3 linked regions of the Homo sapiens genome follow. The protein of the gene in region 2 interacts with the protein of the main gene of each other region in a pairwise test. Each region holds a gene or a part of one and is shown on either strand. Other genes may lie near its edges.

What was found.
Region 1: the proteins of FAM163A (region 2) and UBE2K interact in binary tests that used the Homo sapiens proteins (3 or more experiments, as listed by UniProt).
Region 3: the proteins of FAM163A (region 2) and RWDD2B interact in binary tests that used the Homo sapiens proteins (3 or more experiments, as listed by UniProt).

What each region holds. Positions count from the first base shown.
Region 1 is NC_000004.12:39,777,445-39,784,287, forward strand, and holds the end of UBE2K (ubiquitin-conjugating enzyme E2 K), read left to right. Parts: intron 1-237; coding exon 238-366; intron 367-915; coding exon 916-990; 3' UTR 991-5,348; downstream 5,349-6,843. UniProt on the Homo sapiens protein: Accepts ubiquitin from the E1 complex and catalyzes its covalent attachment to other proteins. In vitro, in the presence or in the absence of BRCA1-BARD1 E3 ubiquitin-protein ligase complex, catalyzes the synthesis of 'Lys-48'-linked polyubiquitin chains.
Region 2 is NC_000001.11:179,808,376-179,817,061, forward strand, and holds the end of FAM163A (protein FAM163A), read left to right. Parts: intron 1-949; exon of another isoform or gene 950-1,071; intron 1,072-1,306; exon of another isoform or gene 1,307-1,558; intron 1,559-3,734; 5' UTR 3,735-3,756; intron 3,757-4,400; exon of another isoform or gene 4,401-4,700; 5' UTR 4,701-4,722; coding exon 4,723-4,815; intron 4,816-5,403; coding exon 5,404-5,814; 3' UTR 5,815-7,823; downstream 7,824-8,686.
Region 3 is NC_000021.9:29,002,889-29,010,040, forward strand, and holds the end of RWDD2B (RWD domain-containing protein 2B), read right to left. Parts: intron 6,805-7,152; exon of another isoform or gene 6,707-6,804; intron 5,734-6,706; coding exon 5,507-5,733; intron 5,420-5,506; coding exon 5,352-5,419; intron 5,236-5,351; coding exon 4,873-5,235; intron 3,764-4,872; coding exon 3,529-3,763; 3' UTR 1,496-3,528; downstream 1-1,495.

The DNA.
Region 1 (6,843 bases), on a different chromosome or scaffold from region 2:
GATTAAAGTAGATTAATGTTACTTGTCTTTATTATTGTCAACACAAATTGTGAGTCGAAGCTTCAGGTTAAGTGGTCTTTTCTCGAGTGACATAGGTTGTCTATAATGCAAAGTGAATCACATTTTAAATGTAGATTTGTTTTATTTGGAAAAGTAGGATTGTAGGCGATTAAGAGCTGAAATATATCAAATATTATAACTGTAATGTCATGTCAATCAATTTTTCCCCCCATATAGTACAAACAAAATCCCGAAATGTTCAAACAGACAGCTCGACTTTGGGCACATGTGTATGCTGGAGCACCAGTTTCTAGTCCAGAATACACCAAAAAAATAGAAAACCTATGTGCTATGGGCTTTGATAGGGTAAGTACATAAGGGCATGTTGATTTTGATATATTGATTGATTTTAAATTATTGCAAATTCTTGGCTGACAAAAGTGGTTTAGAAAATAAGAGAAATTCGCAGCCTGGGCAACATGGCGAAACCCATCTCTACAAAAATTAGCTGGACATGGTAGTGAGTGCCTGTAATTCCAGCTACTCTGAAGGCTGAGGTGAGAGAATCCCTTGGGCCCAGGAGGTCGAGGCTGCAGTGAGCGATAGTCATGCCACTGCACTCCAGCCTTGGTGATAGAGCAAGACCCTGTCTCAAAAAAAAAAAAAAAAAAAAAAAAAAGGAAAATAAGAGAAAATCTAGTTTTGGTAAACATATTTTCTGTTTTCAAAGTCAGTGATTTTTTTATTTTTACTAATTACTGTCATTGATTTTAGAAGCTTTCCATGCACTGCAAATGTAAATCAACTTACAGAAAAGAAACAAGGTGTTAATTCCCAGTATAAAGAGTGAATGATTCAGTATTGTTTAAATGTTTCCTTGAGATTTAATTTCCTGTCCCCTTTTCTTCTCTACAGAATGCAGTAATAGTGGCCTTGTCTTCAAAATCATGGGATGTAGAGACTGCAACAGAATTGCTTCTGAGTAACTGAGGCATAGAGAGCTGCTGATATAGTCAAGCTTGCCTCTTCTTGAGGAGCACCAACATCTGTTATTTTTAGGATTCTGCATAGATTTCTTTTAAACTGGCATTCTTGCCTAATGATGTTATCTAGGCACCATTGGAGACTGAAAAAAAAAAATCCCTGCTCTGTAAATAAAGCTAATTAAACGTCTGTGTAAATTTAAAAAGGGGAAATACTTTAATTTTTTTTCTTAATAGTGTAAAAATTCCCTGAGCTAAGCTAAAACCATGGAAGAAACATGCTACTTTAGTGTTTAGCAGTGTACCAAGACTAGCAAGAGTTTGCTTCAGGATTTTGTTGAATAATTAAGATAATATTTTGAGTGTGTCAGGGCCATTCAAATTGTTGGTGTTGCATCACAGCTACCTTAACTGTTTTTAACATGGATCCTCTGTGCCTGTGAATTTACTTGCATGCTTGTACTTGACTTCTTAGGATGGGTAGCTGAAAAGACCACCATTTTAAGCATTTGAGAATTCTTAAATATGAAATTTATTCAGAATTGAAGATGGTGACCTATTCAGAGCCTTTTTGTCCTTGTCAACAGACTGGGACAGTGTCTGATTCCCCCTTCACCCCCCCCACCCCCGCCTTGCCACACACAGCTAATATTCTAATGGTAAATTTCTCTGTATCAGGTGGGGAAATGTGCTGAAGGACAGTATGTATCCCTTGCTTCATTTTTAGGTCGTAGGTTTGGAATGTCTTGTCCCAGTTCTTCAAACACTCTTAAATTTTTCTTAAGTAATGTAAAAATGGAACTGCCAATTTTATTTCTCTTGCAAAAATAGTAAATACTTGATGTTACATTATTCCCAGGTTTAATGAAAGAACCCAACTTAGTTTTTCAGTGAATTTGACACCTATTTTTTAGTGATGAAATTTTTCTTTGAGAACTGGCAAGGATGCAGTCAGCTGTTTGCAGTTTTTAGCCTGATTTTGGGGTCTATAGAGATTGCTTTATTGGATACTTCAAGTCATTCTTGCTTGCACTTCCCCTATTGACACATGAAAGCTGTGTTGGTGTTTTATTGTACATACTTCAGATGCACATAGGAATAGAAGTGTGTTATAAATCTAGCTTTCTTTATGATGTTTCTGATAATACGAGAATTGAAAACTTTACCTTCTCTTGTACATAGTCAGACTATTTGTATTAAATTTACATTTCATTCTAAGTTCAAAAGTTTGAAAATTATTAGTTTTGCAAGATCACACACTAATGTAACCATTTTATGAAGGTTGAAGTGGATTTATGCAGGCAGTTCTATATATAGAAATACAATTCTTTTTAAATTTTTAGGACCAATACAAAATAACAAAAATGTAATGGAATCAGACTGAATTAAAGTAAGGCTGTATATTGAAAGTCATATTATAAAAGGTTTGCTTTCTTTAAGTGTTATTTATCTTAAATTATAATCGTTAAATGTTTGGAAGATAATTTTTGAATCATAACGTCAGCATAACTTCATTTGACTTCTCAATAATCTTGATACTAGAAGCAATAAAAGAACCATTATTAAATATATTGTAATGTTAAAGATGTGAAGGTTCTTCCAAAAATTTGTAAGGCTTTCCTAATTAACAGTAAACTCTTATAGCTGATATTATTACATACTAAACACAAGTTGCTGTTTTTTCCCCATATGTTTGCTTACGCATGTCTTTATACAATCACCTCTTTTTATTGCTGTAGTTTATTTTCTAAAGATGCCAAAGGAAACAAGATTTTTCTTTATTTATTTTAAATACCTGAAACCTCGTACTTTATATTTTGAAGTAAGGTGGGATTGTGTGAAAATGTGGATGGTTTTTCTCCAGTGTTGGTTAGAACTACTTTTTTTAAGTGGAGGGCAACTTGGTAGTATTAGTAGAATTTGGGTTTAAAAATATCAGACACATCTACCCAGTTTATTTTTTGCCTGTATTATCAGGGTATATTTAATTGTCCTGTGGTTAAACAAAGGTGAGAGAGCTCAGAGGTTTCTAAAGGTCAAGCATTTTACATATATACATACATACATGCTCTTGGAGGCAGCTATATCCTGCTTTGATTTTTATGCACATGAGCCCTATAGGGTTATATACTCATCTAACTACACTTCAGCATCCCCAGTGCCCAAGAAATTGGAAAGTACAATATTTGGTTTGAGACATTCTTCATAAAAGATTCTTTATTATAAAAATTTACCTCATTTACATTTAATGTGATGATCTTTTTTTTCCTTTCTGGTATATTTCCCACTGTACTGTTTGGTTTTTGTTATTCTCTTGTCTGTGGGTAGATTTAGTTACCCAAACATAGAAACTAAAGCAATTGCTTTTTTCCTCTGGTCTTAAATATGTTTGGACAAAAAGACACTAAAAGGTCAGGCCTAGGGGAAAAGTACCCTGGTGGAAATTATTTTTGTAATTCTTAATATTTTTGAGTTGGCTCCGTTTGTCAGTTTTAAAAGCCTCAAAAATTATGTTAAAAAAAAAATCCAGTGAAATCCCATTTAGGGCAGGCCGATTTGTTAGAAGTCACTGATGCTCCAGTAGGCTTTTGTTATAATCAGGCCTGTTTCCTGAGTATGTGCCTCTTTTAAAAGAAGAAATAATTAGCTGTATAGTATTTCAGTACTGATGAATGAATGAATGAATGAATGGCAGTTAGTGGACCCAAATAAGTATTCAGTGGTATATAAATATTTGAGGAACTAGGTACTGAATTAGGTGCTCTGAGTTGGCACCCCGAAATGTTTGGAATCACGACTATGATTTACTTAAACACGTAACACATTCAAGGATATATAAATGGAGTCTAAGTATTTTGCTTTTGAAGAGAATAATCTATGAAATGGAAGACTTGATTTTTTTTTTCATTTTTTAGAAGTAATACACATTTATGATTGTTGGCACATAAAACTATGCAAAATAATTCTTTTTAAGTATCTGTAAGAAAGAATTGGCAGTTTAAACGGATTTTGCTTATTTATGCACTACAGAATGCAGCATACTGTATTACTGTTGAGGCTGCTTAATAAGTTTACCAATGTGAAAAGCAGATCTTGGGTATAAGTGTATGCCTGATTTGAGCTTTTAAAACTGTGCAGTAGGTGTATGGTAATGTTTTACAATCCTATGTAGCAAAATAGGAAATTATGAATTTTTGTTGTTATTGTTTTAAAGATTTAAGATGGATTGGGGTAGGGAACAGCTGGAGCCAGGTATACCTTCTAGTATGTAGAGGGAAACAATGTTTAGATAGGAAAAAGGAAGCCGTCTGTTTACAGTTAACTTTATTTCATGGACTTCTACAAAATGTTGTATTAATCACTTTTTCTAGTTCAAGGAATTTCAATTCCAGGGTACAAACCATTGATTTAAAAATTACGTTTCCATTCTTTTTAGTATCAGTTTAAAGTAAATGCTTACCATCAGCCAGTTGCTGTCACTGGGAAGAAGGCAACTTGAAGTATTTACTGATAAAATAGCCTTTATTCCCAAGTGTGACTTTTCTTCAGTGTCTACATATTATGTCACACGTTCTATTTGCACTGCTGCAATATAGATCAAAGATCTTGTGGCATAGGGGTAGGGGAGTGTTAGTATCTCCCTTGTCCCATTTGTTCTGTTACTGCTTCATTGGACTGATACACCCTCATGAACTTGCAATCACCTAAATGGAAGTCTTGAATGTGTCACCTTTTGCTTGGTTATTTCAACCATGCTGCTATATATAATCAGGTGTGGCACAGTTTGTCAGTTTGATTATAGGTGTGAGTGGATAGAAATCATTACACTGTGCTGTTAACGATCCTTGTCTGCTTGCTGTTACCTACTTTTTACAGGCATCATAATAAAAGCTAGACTATTTCTTTGGGGGGAAAGAGACTTATTTAATGTAATTTAAAAAACTTTTCCAATAGAAAATGAAATATTATTGAAAATAATATCTATTTTTTAGCTTTCAGCAATTGATGGTGCTTTGTTGTGGTGTCTGCTGGAAGTCTACTGCCATTATAGGGAACCTTGCTTGTTAGCTTCTCTAGATCTCTATTCTAAACAATCTGTTAGTGATGATAAATTCTGTAGGAGGGTCTATTCTGAGCCGTTAACTTCCTGTAAGGGGAAAATGGGTGGGTTACCAGAAATACCATTGAAGCAGGGTGGGCTGTGGGGTGGAAGGTTGGGGTATTTGTCTTGAGAATTAAAAACTACGAAACACTTTTGTACACAACTGATTTTTTAAAAAATAAACACATTTTTAAAGATGTTGAATTTTTCCCCCCTTATTGGGAATTCTTAAAAATAAATGCATGCATGTTTTCCCCTGAAAATGGTTTATATCTTATTTCTGGGTGCTCATCTGTGGACAAGCAATTAAGTCTTACTCTAAATAAGAACCAGGCAGATATTTCTCCTTCACAAATTTCATAGTGATTGACATATAAATGCAGTAAGTTGTATCAGATCTTTGAATTTAAAAACATTGAAATTTAGTTCTAATTAAATTTACTAAAAGAACATATTTGCTTAGGTTCTAATCCAAAATTTAGAGTAATTAAGAGTTAGTTAAGTAATACTTTGTATTCTGTTTCCATATATGCTTTCTGGAAAGTTGCTCGGTACTGTCAAAAAGACTGAATTGTTTCAGAAAGTCCAGGGTTTAATCCCAGCTTTTACTCAAGAGCAGAGAGCCTGGACTTTTCTGAGCCTCAGTTTCCTCATCTAGGTAAGATATTTGCCCAGTACTTCGTAGCGTGTTGGTGAAGATCAAATTAAATGATTGATGTAGCTATAAAACTACTTAATTGTATAGACGTTAATATAATTCTAACACTAAATTTTGGCTAAACTATGAAAGTATTACTCTGTTCCTAATCTGAAACCACCAAGAGGATACCTTGTTTGAAAATTGTGGTTTGGCAAAGTAGCTATTTTTTGTTATGTCTGACTATTTCAAAGGTCCATTGATTGGTTATTATCTGTAGATTGACCCTTCCTCCATAAATGCTGATAATTAGAAGACACTTTGTCAGGGTTTGTACAAATTATTTTACATGGCAAAACTGATCGTGTCTTTATGGTATTTGTAACCAACTCACAGCAGGCCTATAGGTTTCTTTGCCAAGAAATGGAATTCCTCCTGACCTGGAATATCAATATAAAGTGTTCTTTTTGTGGAGTAAGACTGGGTCTTTAGGTACTAAAAATCCAGGATAACAAATAGAATTCAAAGCTGGGTGTGGTGGCTCACACCTGTAATCCCAACACCTGGGGGGGCAGAGGCAGGTGGATCATCTGAGGTCAGGAGTTAGAGACAAGCCTGGCCAACATGGTTAAACCCCATCTCTACTAAAACCAAATATTAGCTGGGCATGGTGGTGCGCGCCTGTAATCCCAGCTACTCTGGAAGCTGAGGCAGGAAAATTGCATGAAAACCTGGGGAGCGGAGATTGCAGTGAGCCAAAATTGCACCACTGCACTCCAGCCTGGGCAACAGAGTGAGAATTTAAGGAGCTCTCATGCCCTGGCAATAGATACTCAAATTTAAAGAGCATCAGACATTTGGCACTTGTTTTGTTTTGATCATCAGTGAATTAGTTTTCCAGTGAATAATATGAAAATTATTAAGGATAACTTTCTTAAGGTATCAGATAAAGTCAAATGGCAAAGTTTGCAAAATGACACAAATTCAGGATAATTGCTGAAGTGATTATTAGCTGGAGCATGGTTGATTATCTTTGCCAGTGTGGTGGCTCACAACTGTAATCCCAACACTTTCGGAGGCTAAGGAGGGAGGATCACTTAAGCCCAATTGGAGGCTGCAGT
Region 2 (8,686 bases):
AGACATGGCTGGTTGACCCGCTGCCTCAAGGTCTCAGCTGGGGTTGTCAATTCATCCCAAAGGTCAACTGGAGAAGGATCCACTTCATCTCTCATGTATGTGGCTGTTCAGTTCCTTTTGGGAGGCTGGATTGAGGGCCTCAGTCCCCAGCCAGGAATTGGCCAGAGGCCACCCTAGGTTTCTTCCCCAACATGGCAACTTTCAGTATCAAAACTATCAGAGAGAATGGCTAGCAAGAGAATAGTCTGAATCTTATATAATCTATTCACAGAAGTGACATCCCATTACCCATGCTGTTTTCGATTGGTTAAAGCAAGTTACAGGCCACACCCATACTCAGGGGAGGGGAGTACACAAGGGCATGACTGCCAGGAGGCAGTGACCACTTGGGCCATCTCAGAGCCTGCCTGCCATAAGAGAGCATAAATGGAGCACTTTGTAAACTGTAGGCTGCTGTTTGGGTGTAAGGAGATATTGCCAGCATTTGCATCTAGTTGCAAAGAGACAATGAGCCCTCCTGAAATCATAGAGAGCCACTGAATGTGGGAATTTAAATGCTAAACTGTACCATTAGTACAGAAATTAGCCAGCCGTGGTAGCACATGCCTTTGGTCCCAGCTACTTGGGAGGCTGAGGTGGGAGGATCGCTTGGGCCCTGGAAGTTGAGGCTGCAGTGAGCCGAGATTGCAGCACTACACTCCATCCTGGGTGACAGAGCAAGACCCTGTCTCAAAAAAAAATTTTTTTTTTCCATTAGTACTGGGGCTTCAGGGAAACTGGTTGAGAGCTGATTAGTTCATCTCATACCCTGTACATGTCCCTTCCTGGCTTATGATTTTAAGGCCAGACCTAAACAGCCACAACATGTCGAGGCCCCCCAAAACCATGTTTGTGGGGTCTTTTCTAGTTCACAAAGAGCTCTCACACCCATCCCCCTCTTTCCTCACAGTCACACTTGAGAATTCAGAGGAAGAGAGGCAAGCCTTGGTTACGATTCCTCGCAATCCTACTGGCAAGGGAGACGTGAGAGGAATGTGAGAGCTGAGCGTTTTGTTCATCTTTGCTTTACAAGTGAGAAAGAAGGTCATTTTCCAATATGGGGTAGCTGCTCAGTGGCACAGGTGATCCTCGAACCTGGGCCTTGAGAACCCCAGCTCTGCCCACACTGCCATGCCCCCGATGTCCAGGCCATTGCCGTGCACAGCCTGCGTGGTCCTGAAAGAGGGGTGGTCCAGCACAGGGGCAGGGAGGAGGGAGGGCACTGTTCTTATACAGCTTCTCCATAATTCCCTGTCTCCTAAAATAGGCTTGGCACATCCTGGAACACTAGTCCAAGCCTGTCTGTGGGGTGGATCACTGCTGCCTCCCCAGCTTCAGGTCACTCCTAGACCTCTCTGTCCATAAGCAGCCCTCAGCGACGAATATGCAGGGAAGTGGTGAGGGGATGAAGTGGTGCTGTAGTGAAAGTGCCTAAGCCTTCCCCACGCTGAGATTCATCTGACCCCGCCTCCAGATGCCCCAAGAAACCCCTGAAGCATGGCCCGCCATGCACCTGGGCAAAATCAAAGTGGTCTCGAACAGTGACGCTCAAGTCTGCAGATGGGATTGAGCTGAGAGGTACAGCTTGCTGCCCCCTGGTGGTCTGTCAGAGTCATAACTGCCAGGGCTGTGACAAGCTAAACAGTGAGCTTTTATTAAGTACCCGGTATGTGTCAGGCATGGTGTATAAGGCTGCAGGGGATAGGAGACCGTGTAAGACACAACCCTTGATCCCAGAGGACTTATAATATAGTGGAGGAGTCAAGATGTTCCCACATGAAAAGTTGACTCTCATCCCACCAAGCGGGATTTGAAGAGCAAACCATGAAGGGCATTGCAATAGGAGCCCAGAAGTGAGAGAGCTTCAGGGCTGGGGCAGTCAGGGGAGGCTTCTCAGAACCTTGAAGGATGGGCAGGATTTAAACAGATGGAAAAAGAAAGGCCACACGCTCCCCTGTCAAAAGCCCCGTCAGGAAACCCCCAGGGTCTCCAAGAGAGTTCATCTGGATTCCTTGACCGGGTTGCAGCCTCTGCAGCTGCATGCCTGCCCTGGCCTGTCCCAGCCTCGCCAGATCCCTCGCAGTTCCTGGAACTGTTTTCTCACACCCCTGGACTGTTCATTCTGCCCTCCCCACCTTGTCTACTGGATAAGCTTTCACTCAGCTTTTAGGATTCAGCTCAATACAACACCTGCAGTGGAGCATCTCCCCTCAGTCAGTAGCTGCCCCACTCTAGGTTCCGCAACTCTAGTCTGCAATTCTGTGGCTGCGAGTCTCACACTGTATCCTAAGGTTTGCCCCGTATCTTTTCATCACTAGGCAATAAGCTGCTTAAGAACTGTAGGACTATGGCTCACACTTGTAATCCCAGCACTTTGGGAGGCCAAGGCGGGTGGATCACCCACCTTGGTGGGTGGTCAGGAGTTTGAGACCAGCCTGGCCAACATGGTGAAGCCCCGTTTCTACTGAAAATACAAAAATTAGCCCGGTGTGGGGTTGCACGTCTATAATCCCAGCTACTCGGGAGGCTGAGGCACGAGAATCACTGGAACCCAGCAGGCAGAGGTTGCAGTGAGCCAAGATTGTGCCACTGCACTCCAGACTGAGGGACAGAGTGAGACTCTGTCTCCAAAAAAAAGAACAGTGGGACTGCATGATGGGGCAGTGGATCACGTAAGCGGAAGAAAGGGAGGTGAGGAGGGAAAGATAAATAGGGTAAGTGTGCAGGAACGTGGGGGATGGCAATGTCTTTGAAGCTGTCTCTAAAAGTTTATGGGCAGATAAATGTATCCTGCAGGCAATGTGGTGCATGAGAGTCACAGAAAGGCCCAGGGGTATGAAGGAAGGCTTAACAGCTGGTGGCAGGAAGGGTACTCAGAGACAAAACTGGGAAGGTTTGTTAGGAAACCATTGTGCCAGTGCAGCTTGAGAGGTGATGAGTCTTCACTGGTGTGGGGGACAGAAGACTGGGGTAGCCAAAGAAGAATTTGAGGAGTTTAAATTCTGGGCAGCTAGGGGAACGTCCCATGGGCTTGTCAAACTCTAATGTGCAACCTACTCAATTGGGACCTTGTTAAAATGCAAACTCTGACTCATTAGGCCTGTGGGGGGCCTGAGATGCTATCTTTCTAATGGTGCTCCCAGGTGATGCCCACGCTGCTGGTCCACAGAGCGGGAGTGGATTTGGAGCCACACTGCCGGGCAGGTGCAGCCCTCTAAGAGGACAGTGGTGGACATGTGATATCTTTGGGTAAAGAGATAAAGGCACCCCCTTTTACCTGGTGAACACACCAGGGTGCATAGCTTTGTGAGCACAGTGCAGTTGGGTTCTAGCCCCCACTTGCCCTTTGAGTAATAAACAATTTGCAAAGCCCTTCGGGACAGCTCTGGTGGAGCCACCAACAGAGCCTCCAGACAGGTCGGAGGAGAGGAGTCCATTTGGAGAGCAGGGTGGTGACTTTAACCTGTCATAACTGAGTTTGAGATGACCACTGGGACATCCACTGAAATGTCTATCTACTAGCAGCTGGAGACCCAGCTGGAGACCTGGACTTGGGGTCTGTGGGCTCACTGATGATATGCCACACAGCGAAGAAAGCAAAATGAGGGTTGTCTGGGAATCATCTAACCCTTCTGGCCTTTTTCAGTGAGTAACTCTCTTCTTCCAACATCTCTGTCCTTTCTGTTGTCTTGCAGGTCGCCGTTCCCTTTACTGAATGTAAGTGATCGTAGTCATTTTTCCATCTCCAAGATGCCAACTTCCCATTCCCCACCCTCCTGCCCCTTGGTCCCAATGCACCTGGGAGGCTCAGAAATCCCCATTCACTGACCTAAAAGGAGAATCTGTCTGAAGCCATGACAGCCTCATGCCCAGAGCTTGCCTCTGTCCTGTTCATTCAGCCTCAGAAGCCAGGACCAGTCTCCCCAGCTTGGCCACAGCCTTCCAGGGCCCAGAATGCCACACACCACTCCCTCTGGGCTCGCCTTGCCTTTGTTTTCCAGGAGGGTTTGAAGGAGAAGAGAGATACCCCCAAAAGAAGTGCTGGTTTGAGCCAGAGAAGAGCCACCTGGTGTTTTCGAGATGTGGCCCTTTCCCCGCCAGCCCGGGCCAAAGGCTCAGGGACCACTGGGGTGTGTGCCAAGAGGGCGGGGATCAAGAGCACAGCCTTTGGGATGAACGGGCTGGGTGGAATCGCAGCCAAATTATTCGCAGCCCCGTTCAGCATGCGTGCGGTAGGGATAGCTAATAACTGCCCCGAAGGGTTATCGCGAGGATGTAGTAAGATGCGTGGGGGTGCTTAGCATGATGCCACACAGGGAGGAGCCCCGCAATCAGCGGCAGCTGTTCCTCTGTGTCTGCAGCCACGCAGAAGCGGGAGCTAAGAAGGGTGTGACGGGAGAGGAAAGGCGAGAAGAGCACCAAAGGGGAAAGATCGTGAGAACTTTTTGAAACTGGGTACTCAACTTCGCCCACTTAGGCTGGCCCAGTCTGGAGCCACAGTCGTCCTCAGCCTTCAGGAAACCCCTGGGGCCTGGCCCTCCCGGCACCTGCTGCTCTCAGGCCCCCTGCCCCAGCCTCGGGGCAGTTCCAGGAAGACTCCCCCCGGCCCAGCCCAGGGCTGCAGCCACAGCTGGTCCTCAGCCCTCCGCACATCTTTGCAGAGTTTGATGGGGCGCCGGGCGGATGACAGCGGGAACGGTTGTGATCACTGGCGGAATCCTAGCTACGGTGATCCTCCTCTGCATCATTGCCGTCCTGTGCTACTGCAGGCTCCAGGTCAGTCCCCGGGACCCGTAGCCAGAGGCTGCCAGGCCACCAGCAAACCTCTTTTTCATTATGGGGGCAGAAACTGGAGGCCGACTTCAGGGCCCACAGAGCCCAAAGCTATGGAATGTAGCAGGCGTAAGTCAAGGAGGATGGGAGTTGGGGCTGGTCGGAAGGGAGCTAAGTGCCCCCCAGCCTGCCCACTCAGAGCACACAGAAAGTGTGCTGGAAAGATACGGGGTCATTGGGTTGTGTCTCCTGCACCTCTGAGATTTCAGGAGCATGGGAAGAGCACCATTCTGGGGAGGCTCTGAAAGCTGCCGCCAGCAGCTCCAGCCCTGTCCTCAATATGATGTGTGTGTCCCTGCCCCGCTCAACTACAGCCTGGAGTTACTGCGAGGAGTGGTGGGAGGGGAAAAGGAAAGCAGTACTGGCCTTGCAAAGCTGGGATTAGAAACTTGTGGAGCAGGCCCCTGGGGTTCAGTGCCTGGCACTAGGTTCTCCATGGAGCAGGGGACAGGGGCACCTGTGCACGCTCAAAAATGCATGGGGCGGGGGGAGCATTCACCCTCTCAGGCATCCCTCTGCCCTTCCGCACAGTATTACTGCTGCAAGAAGAGCGGAACCGAGGTTGCAGACGAGGAGGAGGAGCGGGAGCACGACCTTCCCACGCATCCCAGAGGCCCCACCTGCAATGCCTGCAGCTCCCAAGCCCTGGACGGCAGAGGCAGCCTGGCGCCTCTCACCAGCGAGCCCTGCAGCCAGCCCTGTGGGGTGGCCGCGAGCCACTGCACTACCTGCTCCCCATACAGCTCCCCCTTTTACATACGGACGGCTGACATGGTGCCCAATGGGGGTGGAGGCGAGAGGCTCTCCTTTGCTCCCACATACTACAAAGAGGGGGGACCCCCATCCCTCAAATTGGCAGCACCCCAGAGTTACCCGGTGACCTGGCCAGGCTCTGGGCGTGAGGCCTTCACCAATCCAAGGGCTATTAGTACAGACGTGTAAATCCTTCCACCCCGACCCGCACACACACCCACACTGCTGCCCTGGCGGGGGCCATGGGGGTGATGAATGACCCTCCAACAGCCCCACATGGGTTGTTTCTGTTTCTTTGGCTTTTCTCGCTCCGCAGTGGAGGGTTTACTAGGATTTAAGCTTTTGAGTGCATTGAGAACCAAGACAGGGCCTGGCTCCAACTCTGTGGGCCAGAGGTGGGGGACTGCTAGGTCGAGTCTGCAGCTTCGCCAGTTTCTTGGTTGGGACACTCCTCTGGCAGCCCCAGCACCACCACAACCCCTTGCAGTGTGCCCCAGTCCCCTGGATTCGCTGGACTGCAAAAAGGAGCACCAGGGAAAGCTCAGCAAAGGCTCAGGAGGCCTCCCGGGTCCTCGGGAGATGAAGCATCCGTGCCTAGGAAAAGGGGACAGAGGGCAAGGAGAGAAGTGAGAGCTACAATTCCAGCATTGGAGAAGCGAGGGGCGGGGCGTCAACGGCACTGCTTCAGGACGCGCTTGCTGAAACGACTCCAACAGCTAGTTCACAGCCCAGCTTTGTACGTTGGTTACCATAGCTACTGCTGTCACTGTAGCTGCTCCCGTAGGGTCGTTGATTCCTGAACGTATCACATCTCACCTGCCCCCTTCCTCGTGGGACGTGTCAAGTTGACTTTAAAGCCTAAGGTGGCTTGTGGGGACTGCACCAGAAAGTGTCTAACCTTGTGTTCCCCGAAATCCTTTCTCTGACTTAGGAACCAGCGCCCCCTGCTGGAGAAGTTTTTTCATTTTGTTAGCCGACTTCTGGTAGCTTAGCAAAGAGACCAGCTGACTGTCTCTCGGCCCAGCCCACCACGCCGAGTAGCTTGTGTGGATGCAGTCCTGTGAGGGTGTGCATAACCGTTCCCAGGTGTACGCACGCGCGCGCGCGCGCACAGACACACACACACACACACACACACACACACACACACAGTAACCACGGGTAGGCACCAGGGGCTTTGTACATTCAGGAGCTGCAGAGAGGAAAGGTCTCCCATGTACCAGAGAAGGAAAAGTCTGATCCCGAAACAGCTTGAACGAAAGGTGGTTAACACGTGACCAATCCCCATGGCAGACAGCGGGCTGGTGAACAGGAAGAGCACAGAATCTCTGTGGGGCGATGCTGCAGCGGCTGAAACCACGTCAAGTCCCCCAGAGCCCGGCATTCTATGTAAGCATCCACCTGTGACGCCGTGGAGCAGGATCTTCATTCATCTCACCAGAGCAACAGCCCAGTCCTGAGGATGGGAGGGACGTGACTTAGCCTTGGGATTCCACGCTCGCCGCCCTCCCTTGGCCGCCCTACTCCCCAGTTTCCTGGCGATGAGCCATTTATTGTGTCTCACACCAGCCTCATTTCCAACTCCGACTTCCTACTTAGAATGTGGCAGTGGCTTTGTGAGTGAGAATCCTGATGAGTTTTCCAGTGGCCTCTGCAGAAGCTGGCCCCCTTCTAAGGGCATAGCTAACCCCCTTCCCACTCCTGAGTCACTGAATTCGAGGAGGGTGGGGCAGGGAAAGGGCTGGCCCCCCTGCTGAAATCTTGATTCTGCATTTGAGGAAGGTCAGGGTGCCGCTGGGGGAGCAGGGAGCGGGGAGGGAGGAAGAGGGGAATGCACATCTTTTGCGCCACTATTAAGGCACCTGTCACCTTACATCTCAATCTGGAATCAAAGTGCCCTGGGTTGAGAAGCAGACCTGGGCTCTGGTCACACTTTGGTCACTCATTAGCTCTAGGACCAGTCACTAATCTCTGAGACTCCATTTTCTCCAGGGAAACGAGGCTTGCCCAGATAGACTAACAACCCTTTAGTGCTCCAAGAAGTGAGAATTTCCGAAAAAGATCTGCCGGCCCAGAGCACTCCCTCTTGCCCTAATCCTGGCAGGGTCTGGATGTATTTACCCAACTCTGATCTTGCGTGCAGGGATGCTTGCTGATGGATGAAAGACCACAATAAAACAAGATTAGCAGCAAAACAATTTTAATTGTCAGTGAAAAGCAAACATGTTTGTCAGACTCTCCTGTGGAGTCATTTCAAATGGTAACTCTTCTCTTGTACCAGGAAGCAGCTGTAGGTGGGGTAATGGGATCTGTCTCCTGGTGCAGAGGGGCAGCTTATGGCGGCAGCAGCTTCAACAAGCCCGTCCCACGGCCAGCCCTAACTGGGCCAAGTGCAAGCTCCTGATGAGCTGCTGGGCCTGGCAGCGTTCCCCACTTCCTAGTGCCTTGCTCCCCTGGAATTCCACAGCCAATCAACCACAGCAGCCGTGTCCTCCTTGCCAGAAATAACATCATTCGTACGTCCTGCCTTTGTAAAAATCAAGACCCAGTTAACCATCACCCACTTCTTGCCCCTGATTGATGGGGTCCCTGAGTACAAGCGTCCTGTGCAATCCCCTCCCTCCTACCGCTTTCCTAGCTAAGCCCTGCTAGCCCCACAAATCAGAATCTGGGTTTGGGGTGCTGGAGAGATGGTGGGCCCCAGCTCTTCCCCACATAGCCCACGCTGCTCAGGGCACGGTCTCCAACCAGGCTCGAGATTGCCTGCCTGCCCGCTGCAGCCGCAGGGCCCCACCCTGTGGAAAAGGAAGCTTCCCCCACTCAACTGCACTGTCCTTTTCTGCTGTCTAGTCTGTGCTAAGGGACACTACTTGTACACTTTTCAAACGGTGCCCTAAATTGGAAGAGAAGGAGGGGCCAGGAACACAGCCCTCTCCGCCGTCTTTCTCCACCTCCACTTCACCACTCCTGCTCTAGACTTCTTGTCTTGCATCTTTGATAACTTGGAGTCATAACCGAGTGGATGTCGGAATAAATGAGAGATTTGAAGTAGAAATCCCAC
Region 3 (7,152 bases), on a different chromosome or scaffold from region 2:
GTGCTCGGGAGCTGCCGCGGTCACAAGAGAAAGCCTAGCTGTCAATGACAGCCCCAGAGCATCTGGGCGCCTTGCGATACCCGGGTGTCTGTAGGCAGCCAGGAGACACTTCCAAGCTGATCTGGAATCTTTCCTCGCCCAGCTCTGTCCCTCGCAGGGATGGCAAAGGACATTACGACCTACATCCCTTCCCGGATCTGATGGCTTCAGATTGGCAGATTGTGTTAAAGTGGAAGGCTCGTGGTGCCCCTTTGCTGAGTTTTTATGGACTTAGTTTTCCCAAGTAGTTCTAATTATCGCTGGGGGGGTGGGGTGGGGCGGGAACGTAATTTCTGCGTCTGCCCTTAAATACCTTTAAACCTTGGCTGCATTGCCGCTTTTATGGAATTTCACCCATAGTCTGTCTTTTTTAGTTTCCCTGATACGCATCTTTCTTAATAATAATAATAATAAATAAATAAATAGCACTTTGGGAGGCCGAGGCGGGCGGATTACCTGAGGTCGGGAGTTCAAGAGCAGCCAGGCTAACATGGTGAAACCTACCTCTCTACTAAAAATACAAAAATTAGCGGGGTGCAGTGGCGCGCGCCTGCAATCCCAGCTACTCCGGAGGCTGAGGAAGAATTGCTTGAACCTGGGAGGCAGAGGTTGTGGTGAGCCTAGATCACGCCACCGCACTCGCACTCCAGCCTGGGCTACAGAGCGAGACTTCGTCTTAAAAAAAAAAAAAAAAAAAAAAAAAAAAAAAAAAAACAAGGCATGTGGCCAGTATTCCCTGCCTATACTTGTTTTCTTTAGAAAAATGTAACTTTTAAACATAATTTGACTTGAAACGGTTTCTTTCCAGGATTTATCATTTTTTATAGGTGATTCCAGTTCAAACTATTTATTACATTAATATGTTGACAAATTGTCGTTGCTGAACAAATTTTTTATGTGCAATCATACGGAACATTTTATATTTAAGGATGTTTATATATCAAGTATATAATCATTGGCAGAAACTGGGCAGGGCGCGGTGGCTCACGCCTGTAATTCCAGCACTTTGAGAGGCTGAGGCAGGTGGATCATCTGAGGTCAAGACTTCAAGACCAGCCTGGCCAACATAGTGAATCCCTGTCTCTACTAAAAATACAAAAAATAGCGAGCGTGGTAGCACGCACCTGTAATCTCAGCTACTCGGGAGAATGAGGTGGGAGAATCGCTTGAACCCCAGGCGGCGGAGGTTGCAGTAAGCCAAGATTGCGCCACTGCACTCCAGCCTGGGTGACAGATCCAGATTCTGTCTCCAGAAAAAAAAAAAGAGAAAGAAACCTAAGAAAGCTATATTGTTTATACTCTAACATTTCTAACATTTAACTACATTTATCCATTCTCAAAGGAAGTTGGTCATCACAAGATTGGAAAATCTGTACTTCCCTGGCTTATATGACTTAATCATAAATGTCTAAATTTGACAGATGTCCCAGGAAAGAAAACTTATAAAACTACTCTGTTGCATTCTATGTGTTTATGTGACATTTGAGATCTGCATATTATACATAGCAATCTGGTTTTTAATATAATGTAGAGAGACTGAAAAAGTTTTAGCAGTTTAGCTGCCACTTTAGCTGCTTAAAGTAATATATGCATCATCTGCCCCCTTTGGTGGTAGGGATGTCAGATTCCATTCTCTGTAGGGTATTTCATACAAATCTGTTAGTCGCTGGAGGAATCAGAAACTAGACACACAACTGGTCCACCTGGCTGTCTGGTGGCAGCAGAGGAACTGGGATTTCCAGGGCAACTGACGGGGCGATAGGACAGGGCAGCAGGGAGGAAATCTGGGGACGTACATAAGATTTAGGTCCAATACAAGCACTGTGCTTTAAATACCATTCTGATTCTCATTTATGTTTAACCACCTTTATATTTAAGATCTATCCACATTGCCTTCTTCCATTTTATTCCTTCAGATTTCTACATTGTATTACATAATATATGCTGTCTTTTACTAACTGATTCATTTTGTGATAAGCATAGTTTGCCTACAACCTTTTACTAACTTAATGCATTGTCTCTCACCCCAACTCCATTCCTTAACCAAGTCTGACTGGTCAAGAAATATCCAACACCTGGTATCAACCTGCATCAACCTGCATGCTAGCAAATTAGCAAATAATAAATGCTTTTGGAACTAACTGGTTTATGGAGGTCCTCAAAAACTGGGTGGTGTGTTTATTTAATGCTAGGTCAATTTGGCAAAAATAAATGTACAGAAAGCCATTTCCAGAACAAAAAATGTCAGAATACAATTTGCCAAACAAATTTTCTAAATTACTAATTTGATGAATTGTTGAGGCTTGTTAAAAAAGTTTAAGCCCTACTAATGCCTCAGCCTTGTCTGAGGCAAGCCCAGGAGCAGGGGCAGAGCGTGAGTATACAAAAAGTGGGGAACTGCAAACTCCACTTCAGAAAAACTTCACCTATTTGTGTATCAAAAGGCTGGGGTAAATGCAAAACTAAAGCTCTGAAAAACTCTATTTGACAAACTAGCTTTCAACTGCTAGTAAAAAGCCTAGATATTGGCCAGGCACGGTGGCTTATGCCTGTAATCCAAGCACATTGGGAAGCCGAGGTGGGAGGATCACCTGAGGTCAGGAGTTCAAGACCAGCCTGGCCAAAATGGTGACACCCTGTCTCTACTAAAAAACACAAAAATTAGCCAGGCATGGTGGCGGGCGCCTGTAATCTCAGCTACTTGGGAGGCTGAGGCAGGAGAATCGCTTGAACTTGGGAGGCGGAGGTTGCAGTGAGCGGAGGTTGCACCATTGCACTCTAGCCCGGGCGACAGAGCAAGACTCCGTCTATTTAAAAAAAAAGCCTAGAAATTAAACAAAACTGGTTTTATTTCATAAGATGTTTAGAGACAGGCAATGGCTGGTGTTGGGTCAGCAGCTCAACAATGTGGCAACTGGCATCTTCGTGGTTCTCTTGGCCCTTCGTCGTGGTTCAAATAACTCCTCCAGCTCCAGTCATCACTTTGGTGTTTATGGCAGTAAGGGGGGGAGGAGGTGGCCTAGCTGCATATGTATCTTTAATCAGGAAGTAAAAGTTTTCCCAGAATTCCCAAGGCCAAAGCTGTGTCCTGAGGCCACTGAGAGTTGTTAGTTGCAACAGAGGCTGAAAGGGGAGCAATTAGCTTTTCTGGGTTCTTTAGTGAAGGCAGGTAAGGGAGAAGGGGGTTGGGAATGGCTGGCAAATTGGAGCACCAACATTACCTTTATGGATAATTTCTTTTTCAAAATGGGCAGCTGATATGTGAAGAAATATCTAACAACAATTTTAAGGTTGTAATTTGAAACTCAGTTCTGCTTTCAATCATGACATTTTTAACAGATGCATTTCAGCTATACTATTTTTTCTTGTGCCCCACTCCCCAACATTCTAGAATGGAACTAAAATAAAATTACTTAATCTTTCAAGAAAAAGTGGGAAAAAAAAATCAAAAGGCCAACAGTGGCAAGATACTTTCAACTACTCTTGATGTCATTGTCCTTCTACACCAAAGAACATCTGGAAAACATCCCCACATCCTTTGGTGTTTAAGAACTGATAGAGCTGACCAAAGTCCATGTGGTTTCCCCTGGCTCCATTAACACTGAACACTTTTTCTTCAAAAATGGAAAATTTCCTTTGTCTTTCCGTTTCATCATTTGTACCATCAAAAGGAATGTCTTCTCGATGGCGAATTAAAATTCTCTTCCAGTTTAATTTTCTGAGTCTGAAAAGAAATTTCCAAAGTAAACATTTTCAAAATGTATATTCTAGAGCATTTAAAACAGAAGTTATAAAACAGATTTATCAATGCCTTTTCCTAGAAGTAGTCTACTTTTTAAAATGTTTATAACTTTTACTTATTGATTTAGTAGAGGCAGGTCTTGCTATGTTGCTCATGCTGGTTTCAAACTCCTGGCTGCAAGTGATACTCTGGCCTCAGCCTCCCAAAGTGCTGGGATTACAGGTGTGAGTCATACACACCCCGTCCAAGAAGTCTACTTTTATCTCACAGGGATTTATTTTAATCAAATATGATTCTGGTCATAATCTCATCTCTGAACTCATTTGTTGCCCTTACTACAGCCATGTATCAGTAGTTTAGAAATGTAGGAATTACTGAATCCCAAACTACTATGGACCTTCTCAGAAATTCATTTAGTATATCAGTAGAGAAATGAGACTAGTGGCAATTCTAATGCTTCTAGAAAGCTCCTTACTTCACAGGGTATACAGTTTGCAGCATCACTAAAATGAGGGAAGGACCAGATCCATGGAAGTGGATGGGGTCATAGTGTCTGGGGCAGGAGCTCAATTCATTCAGTGCATATTTACAGAATGTCTCCTACATGCACTTGTCAGGTGACGGGGAAAATGCTGACTACATGTGATTTCTGCCATATCCATCAACTTGAGATTGAATCCCCATAAAGACACAACCCCTGGGACATACTTATCTCCACATCTCTAATAGTCATGTGTTGCTTAACAACGGGGATACATTCTGAGAAATGTATCTTTAGGCTATTTTGTTGTTGTACCACCACGACAGAGTGTACTTACACAAACCTAGATGGTACTTTTTTTGCATTTATATTTTTTCATATAGAAAACCAAATGTCCCAGCACCATTACTGAATATCATTCTGATATTCAATAGTGGGAAGATCAAGTGCCATATATCAGGTTTCTATATGTGCTCCATTATAATCTTATGGCATCACTGTTTTATGTGTTGTCCACTGTTGACCAAAACGTCACTAGGCAGCACATGACTGTATCTTGTTTAGTATTAACATTATTGACATGACTTCATATACATATGTAAAAGCAAACCTTGACCAGAATTCTTCACAGGCACTTTGTGGGCCTTCCACACAAACAACACCAGGTTTTCCAGGCATGCTAAACCCAGACAGGGAAAGCTCCTTTGCCCACTCTAGAATATTCTTTCTTTTGCATTTGTTATAGATATGATGGCTGTAGATCCAGAGTCTCGTGAAGATGAGGTCAACTGACTGGACTGTGCTTCCTGTGGTGGGTGAAGATGAAGTATCTCTGCTGACATAGCCAGAGGCGTGTTCTCTAACCCACTCTGTGGCATTCAGTATACAAACATCTCCATGACAATGTTTTTGCAGGAATGCAGTCAGATCTGTGTTCAGCTGAGTCTGCTGGGATCTACTCAATAATACTGATCTAATAGAAAAGATACAAGAAAAATATTGTCTTGGAACAGAAAACAAATTCGAGAATTGCTTTTATTCTCAGATTAATTTTGACCTCCAAAGTTGGCCAGAGCTTCTGTAACGTACCTGACAGTAATTTCAGGCAGAACTGCCGGGTATTTAAAGGGAAGAATACAGGCCAGAGAAAACATCGCCTGATTAAAGAGAAGAAGAAAAAGTGCACTAACCAATGTTTTAAGTCTCAACATGTTTCAATCCCTCTAAAAGCAAAACTGAATTACCATTTTTTCGTCAGATACATCCAGGTTCATATTGATAGTAAAGTAGACTTTTGAAGATCGCCCCTCCATTGTCTTCTTTTCAATACAATCTTTCAGTTCTGCTACAGCCAGCTGGTCATTCACTATGAGCTCATTCTCACCAGGGAACATACTGGCTAGCAGGTCTAACTCAGCAAGCTGGGCCTCCGCCTGCTCCATCTCAATCATTTTTGGACATGTGTAAGTTTCTAAGGAGGTAAAGATAAGAGAGACAATTTACATATGCAATCTTGGAAGAAATGAATACATCAACATGTGTACTTACTAAAATTGTACTTGGTTTCTTCATAAATTGTACAATTTAATTAGTCTCTTTCCCTATTACTCTACTTTCAGATATAATATGCTAAGTCCTATGCTAAGACCAGCCTGAGCAACATACTGAGACCATCTATAAAAAAACAAACACAAAAAAACTCTTAATAGTAAGTAGACACCACATTCTTCTGTGTCTAGATAGTTGAGTGGACAACTTGAGCTACCATAATGGGCAATTTCATCAAAGTAAACCAATTATGTAGTCAAAAAGCTGTATCAATAATGTAGCCAGAAGAGAGGATATGACTGGTTACACTGGAAACCTAGAATGAACAAAGTCAGTCAGAGAGTTTGGTTACGTGGATGGTCAATTTCTTCTTTTTAAGTAAATATTAATGTTTATTAGGTTTTTTTGAGACAGGGTCTAGCTCTGTCACCACAGCTGGAGTGCAGTGGCATGATCCCCGCTCACTGCAACCTCAACCTCCCACGCCCAAGCAATCCTCCCACCTCAGACTTCTGAGTAGCTAGGACCACAGGTATGCACTGCCACGCCCGGCTTCATTTTTTATTTGTAGAAACAAGGTCTTGCTATGTTGTCCAGACTGGTCTTGACCTCCTGGGCTCAAGCAATCCTCCTGCCTTGGCCTCCCAAAGTGCTAGCATTACAGGTATGAGCCACTGTGCATGGCATTTATTAGTTTTTTTTTTTTTTTTTTTGAAACGGAGTCTCGCTCTGTCACCCAGGCTGTAGTGCAGTGGCGCAATCTTGGTTCACTGCAAGCTCCACCTCGGCGCGTTCACGCCATTCTCCTGCCTCAGCCTCCCAAATAGCTGGGACTACAGGCGCCCAACACCACACCCGGTTAATTTTTTGTATTTTTAGTAGAGATGGGGTTTCACCGTGTTAGCCAGGATGGTCTTGATCTCCTGACCTCATGATCCGCCCGCCTCGGCCTCCCAAAGTGCTGGGATTACAGGTGTGAGCCACTGCGCCCGGCCTATTTATTAGTTTTTAAGAAGCAGAGGAACATAAAGAGAAAATAAGTGTTAATTGTCCTGTAGCTTAAGTCACCCCTGTTAACATTAAAACATCTTAAGCATTATACATATATATATGTGAAAAATGCTGGTATAATGTATAAATATGTACAATGTGAGATATATACAGTATACATATTTAAATCCAAAGGGGATAATATATACTTTTTCCTCCTATTTCCTATCTCCCTCCCCACCAAATATATTTTGTAGATCTATTCACTGTCAACATATAGTGATCTACCTCATTCTTTGTAACTGTCGGCTGTTATACTGAATCATGTAGATATGCCATAACTTATTTAATT